2 separate regions of the Homo sapiens genome follow, and region 1 is linked to region 2. Evidence: fine-mapped expression QTL. A gene starts in region 2. The other region holds a variant in brackets. All regions are shown on one strand. Distances are from middle to middle.

Region 1 (2,912 bases), 730 kb before region 2:
ATTTAACTAGCTTTTTCTTCTCCTTTTTAGCTGTTACAAAAATGGGTCAGGTTTAGGATTTATTAATTTTCTGGCCTGAAAACCCAAGTGCTTAAAAATAAGATTTATTTTCTGAAGGATCAGCTTTCTTGGAAGGGGTGTGTGTGTGTGTGTGTGTGTGTGTGTATGTGTGTGTGTGTGTGTTTTGAAGACAATACAATTGTATGATCCCTAAATATGGGAGAACATATTATGTAAAGTGAAATACGAAAATTTTTATTAGTTTTTTCTTTATATTATGTGAAGATAAATTAGATGATTTATAAAGGTATTTGAAAATAATGTTTTTCTAAAAGGCTGCTTTTTTCACATTTACCACCTCATTGTCTTTTTATTCCCTCTGATGAGACAACACAGATTCCACCCATGTGAGTCTCTACTCAGGCATACTAGATAATTCTGAGAAGTGCTCAAATTGTGTCTTCTATTAATCCATTCCTGGGGTGGGAATACTCTGTCTATTCGACAAGAATCATTTTCCACTCACTGGCCACAATATTCATCAAGCCTCACAGGGAGGTGAGGCACTTTTCTTTTTTTTTTTTAATTTTATTTCATTATTATTATACTTTAAGTTTTAGGGTACATGTGCACAATGTGCAGGTTAGTTACATATGTATACATGTGCCATGCTGGTGTGCTGCACCCATTAACTCGTCATTTAGCATTAGGTATATCTCCTAATGCTATCCCTCCCTCCTCCCTCCACCCCACAACAGTCCCCAGAGTGTGATGTTCCCCTTCCTGTGTCCATGTGTTCTCATTGTTCAATTCCCACCTGTGAGTGAGAACATGTGGTGTTTGGTTTTTTGTCCTTGAGATAGTTTACTGAGAATGATGATTTCCAATTTCATCCATGTCCCTACAAAGGACATGAACTCATCATTTTTTATGGCTGCATAGTATTGAACAGACACTTCTCAAAAGAAGACATTTATGCAGCCAAGAAACACATGAAAAAATGCTCACCATCACTGGCCATCAGAGAAATGCAAATCAAAACCACTATGAGATACCATCTCACACCAGTTAGAATGGCAATCATTAAAAAGTCAGGAAACAACAGGTGCTGGAGAGGATGTGGAGAAATAAGAACACTTTTACACTGTTGGTGGGACTGTGAACTAGTTCAACCATTGTGGAAGTCAGTGTGGAGATTCCTCAGGGATCTAGAACTAGAAATACCATTTGACCCAGCCATCCCATTACTGGGTATATACCCAAAGGATTATAAATCATGCTGCTATAAAGACACATGCACACTTATGTTTATTGCGGCACTATTCACAATAGCAAAGACTTGGAACCAACCCAAATGTCCAACAATGATAGACTGGATTAAGAAAAGGTGGCACATATACACCATGGAGGTGAGGCACTTTTCTAGTCTGTGAACGTGCATCTCAACCAAAGCCACCACTCTCCCGCTCCCATTAATGTCGCCCTTATTCCTCAGGCATGAGGACTAGGAAGGGGTGAGAAGTCATTTGCTATTTAACTTGGCTCTCATTAGTCCCAAGGAATAAGCAGGTGGATGATGATACTGGCTTGATGGATGATAACACTCCAGGGAGGGAAATGCATAAAACACTTATCAGGTGTGATTATTTTAAAGGATTCTTAGATTTAATGCAGGAGATTTAATGAGAAGAAATGATATTTTTTCTCTCACTTCACATATTTTAGGATATAGCAAACAA[T/C]GAAAGGAGTGAAATGAGAGGAAATAAAAAGTGGAAAGCACACCCTAAAGGTACAGCTTCCTGAGGGACGCAGCTCAAGAGAAGGAACACTTGCTTGCTGAACTGTTACGTAGAGCAACTTCTAGAGCATACATGGAGACTTTCTAGGAGGTTTTTTGAAAACAACATGGTACCAAATTCCTTGTAATTATAAAAAATCACAAAATGACAGCATCCTGGGAAGCAAAGTCTATCAAATGGCAAAGGCCAAATCTCAGAAATGCCAACAGTTCCATAACATTTGTTTTCAGACATTGTTAGCTCATGGATCGGCTCTATCGGAAATGCCTGTTGCAGCAACATGCACGTGGTGTGCTCTCAGTAAATGTGAATGGAGAGAAAGACTAAAATGCATTGCTAACCTACGGCGGTTTCTGCCTCTGTGGAACGTACATCGTGGTTCATGGGAGAGAGGCTTCTTTTAGGAATCGAGTCACCTCTACATGCCAATGAATTCTAAATGATATGGTCTTGGTTGATATTCTGAACCTGACAGTTCCAGAGAGGTTTTTGGTGAATGGAATGTAAAGGAACTCTCTCTGGGGAAATTTATTGCAATGTGCTTCCTTCTGCCCATTGTTTGTTCTTATCAGTGGCCTTTTCCCACCAACTTCCTCACAGTGCTGATCAGACAGAATACCTAGAGGTTTCCCACAAGAAGACACAGATGTGTGCAAGCTCTAAATGATCTCTAAAGACCGCAGTACACATGTGGATTTGCCACCTGGCAGTCAATTGGTCTCTGAATTTCCCTGGATGACTGGGGGCTTGGTAGTCTGTAAGAAGTCGATATTGTCCTCTAAGGTGTTCTCAGCTGTGAGCGTGGCTACTTGGAGACAGCACTGGACTTGCAAGACCTGGTTATATCCCCAAATCTGCCACTTCCCAGCTATGTCACAGCTTTTGGCAAGTCACTTAATGGCTTGAGCCTCAGCTTTCTCTTCTAGAATAGGGGTACTAATAACTGTCCTCCCTGCGCTATTTTCTGTGTGGAAGCAGTTTGTAAGCTCTCTTAGGAATTACTATTTTACAGCTCAGAAAGTTACCTCCAGGTCCTGCCCAGGAGACTGATGGCAGTTTCTGCTTACAGTGCTCTCTCATTCAAAGTTGGGGTAGAAGAAGCCACAATCATGG
Region 2 (2,912 bases):
TGTAAAGGTGCCTAGCCACACTTTCCCCTTCTTCACTTTAGGCTTTCTTAAAATGCACATGTGCAGGGAAAGGTAAGCCATTAAGTCATCAACACCTTAGTGAGAGTGAATTTTACAGGAAAGGCAAGAGATTTAGTAAAAGGGGAAGGAATGGAAAGAGAAAGGGGACTGGAAACACAGTTAAGTGAGTTTGGTACTAGCAAAAGCCCCAGAGAAGACCCTGAGTTCTCGCTAGTTGTTTTGTGTTGGGGGAGGGAAAGCAGTGGATCCCTTCTAAGGGAAGGGAAGCCAGAGAGATTTTTCAGTTCTCCTACGACTCCGAGGTTCCAAAGACTCTGCCCTGTCCAAGCACCCAGGCACAATTCCACTGATTAGCTCATCTCATATCACAACCTCCCCCATCCCCAACCCCTTGCCTCCAACTAAAGAATATTTATACTTTCATCTCCATTTCCCACACTACTTAGTCTTCTCTGGCCCACGGTTCCCTCGAAGAGATGTCTTCCTCCAAGCCGCTAGCTGGCTTCAGGAAACTCCTCAACCTCCAAAAACCCCATTCAGTGCAGGACTCTCCAAAAGGCCGTCCCAGGGACCAGAAAATCAAACCCCCTCCCTGGAACTTCCTTTAACTTTGTCCACGCCTTTGCTCCAGCACTTAGCATTTTCTACCCTAGGCCAGGTTTGACTCCCAGGTTCAACTGAGTTCCTTGAGGGCAACGTCCAATACACCCAGCACAGGGTCTGCCACACACAGGGTGCTAGAGAAATGCTTAGAGAAAGGGAACTTAAGTCCGGAGCCAACTATTTGAATTATGGTCTGGCCTCTAGTAAATAACTTCCGGGCGACCCTCCTTCTCTCTGGGCCTCAGCTGCCCCAACTGTAAAATGGGAGGACTTGGAGGACTGGGTCTAGGCCCTTTCCGCTGTGACAACTGTGATTCCGCGAAAGCTCTAAGCGGATGGGCGTGGCCCCGCCCCCTGGGCGCCCAGAAAAGTCCGGGCAGGGGGCGCGCAAGGCTCCAACCCCGCCTAGCCTGGGGTCGACGCTTTTGGAAAAACTCTGGGTCCCCCTCCCCCATGGCGTGCACCCCGTGATTGGGCCGCGGCCGGCACTTCCGCACAGCGGGCCAGGCCAGAGCAGGGCGCGCGCCCTGCGCTCTTGCCACCCCGGAGGCGCTCGCGCCGGGGGAGGGCTGGGGGTTCCCGAGGCGCCCGCGGGTGGAGGGTGAGGGGAAGGAAGGATTTGCAACAATACCTCAGGGAGGAGGCAGCCGGGGCAGCGGCGGTGGTGGTGGCGGCGGCGGCGGCGGCGGCGGCGGCTGGAGGCGGAGGCAGAGGCAGAGGAGGAGGTGCCCGGGCACTCCCCCTCCCATTGTCCCCAGCCCCGGACAGGCCCGGCCCCGCGCCCCACACTGGCCTCCTCGAGCGCGCCGCCCGCGCCCAGCGCCCCACGCCCCGCGCCCCGGGCCGTGCAGCCAGCCCTTACCTTGCAGCGCCCGGCTGTCTCCCGATCGCTAAAGCTACTTATCCCGGGAAAGCTCGCGCGGGACCCGGGAACGAACCCACAGACAAAAAGTGAAACTTCGGCAGGGCTGGAGCGGCTGCTGGTTGGTGCCTTTCCCCCTCCTTCCTCCCCACCGTCCCCACCCCCTCCCCTTGGTCTCCCGTGCGGTGCCCTGAGCGCTGGAGGCTGACGTCAGGGGCCTGAATTCCTGACTTTGCCTGCACGCATTTGTCCATGTAAGGTATGGGAAGGCGTGTGCCCGCGAAGCCGCCGCGCAGAGCTCGCCTGGCGGGGGAGGGGAAACCCGCAGCCGGCAGTGGCTTTGCCAAAAGGTGGGCGCACTGAGGGCATTGCATTTCCTGGGAGGAAGAGGAGGAGACGCGGGAATGCAGGGAGCTTGCAAAGGAGGAAGAGAAAGAGGGAGATGTGGAGACTTTGCCCCTGCTAGAGGAAGAGGAAGGAGACGTAGGAGGAAGCGGCCGCGTCAGGGGGCTCCTGGAAAATGGAAAAGCCTGCGTCTACTATTAAGGCGTCAAATTAGGGCACTGAGCTTGAGTGGAAGAGATCCAGCCATGAAATCCCCTTCCAAGATTTTCCTCGTGAGCCCCGCCCTGGATTCCCAGCAAGACTCAAAACTTACAAGGTGTCAGAGCTGGCAAAGACCAACTTCCAACCCGTCCGCTTGGCACGTGAGGAAACTGAAGCTCTCGGAAGAGAAATGACTTGTACAGGGTCGTCACTCAGCAGATCGAGGAGCGGGCCCAGGCGCTCTGCCTCCCACTTGGGTTCCCGCCTCCAGGAAGGGCCCTGGCTCCCTTTTAGCCCTGAGCCTTGAAGCAGGTTAGATGCCCGCGAGCTGTGCGGACCACCCAGTGATTTCTACTGCTCTTGGCCCAGAGCCAGTTCCTGGAAGGTCCTGGTTGACAGCGAGCCCTGAATATCAATGACAATCAGTTGCTTCAGGGCAACTTCCTCTGTCCTGTGCTCAAATAAATGAATCCCTGGAGTTTAACGTTTACTTCTGAGCCCCGCCCAGAAAGCTTGCTCTGTGCTTATAGCTTCAAAAAAGTCTGCGAACGAGATGAACTGGTTTGAATACAGACAAGCCTGTCATTGGAAGTTTTGAGTTGGATTTTTCTTTCCCCTCTGACATCTGTAAGGGTGAACGACGATGAGAACCACCACTTAACTGTGTTAGGGGATTATGACGCGCAGCAGCCATGGCCAGGAAAGCATTCCATACCCTGAGACTTCCTTTCCTTGCACTTCTCTCCTATTAATATCTAAAGTAATCCCTCACGTTAGCACATAATGAAAGCAGTCTCTCACCCGGCTATTGCATCTTCAGGTGAGTTAGATAGGACAGAGCGTAGTCCCCCCTTTACACCTCAGACAAAAACTTAAGAAA

What was found. PIP is the estimated chance that this variant, and not a neighbour inherited with it, causes the effect.
Region 1: its variant is fine-mapped to the expression of LPP in whole blood (INTERVAL, PIP 0.97).

Annotation. Positions count from the first base shown.
Region 1 is chr3:188,883,991-188,886,902 of GRCh38, reverse strand. LPP (LIM domain containing preferred translocation partner in lipoma) reads right to left here. Exons shown (of 12, transcript NM_001375462.1): 12 at 1-2,912. Among named protein-coding and RNA genes, the nearest start is that of TPRG1-AS1, 62 kb to the left of the region's middle. The variant T/C (reference allele first, on the strand shown) is at 1,740.
Region 2 is chr3:188,152,596-188,155,507 of GRCh38, reverse strand. LPP (LIM domain containing preferred translocation partner in lipoma) reads right to left here and starts at 1,351. Exons shown (of 12, transcript NM_001375462.1): 1 at 1,256-1,351. It overlaps LPP-AS2 (LPP antisense RNA 2), which reads left to right and starts at 1,420. Exons shown (of 1, transcript NR_036497.1): 1 at 1,420-2,912. RefSeq lists enhancers at 1-116, 1,916-2,816 and a silencer at 1,144-1,483.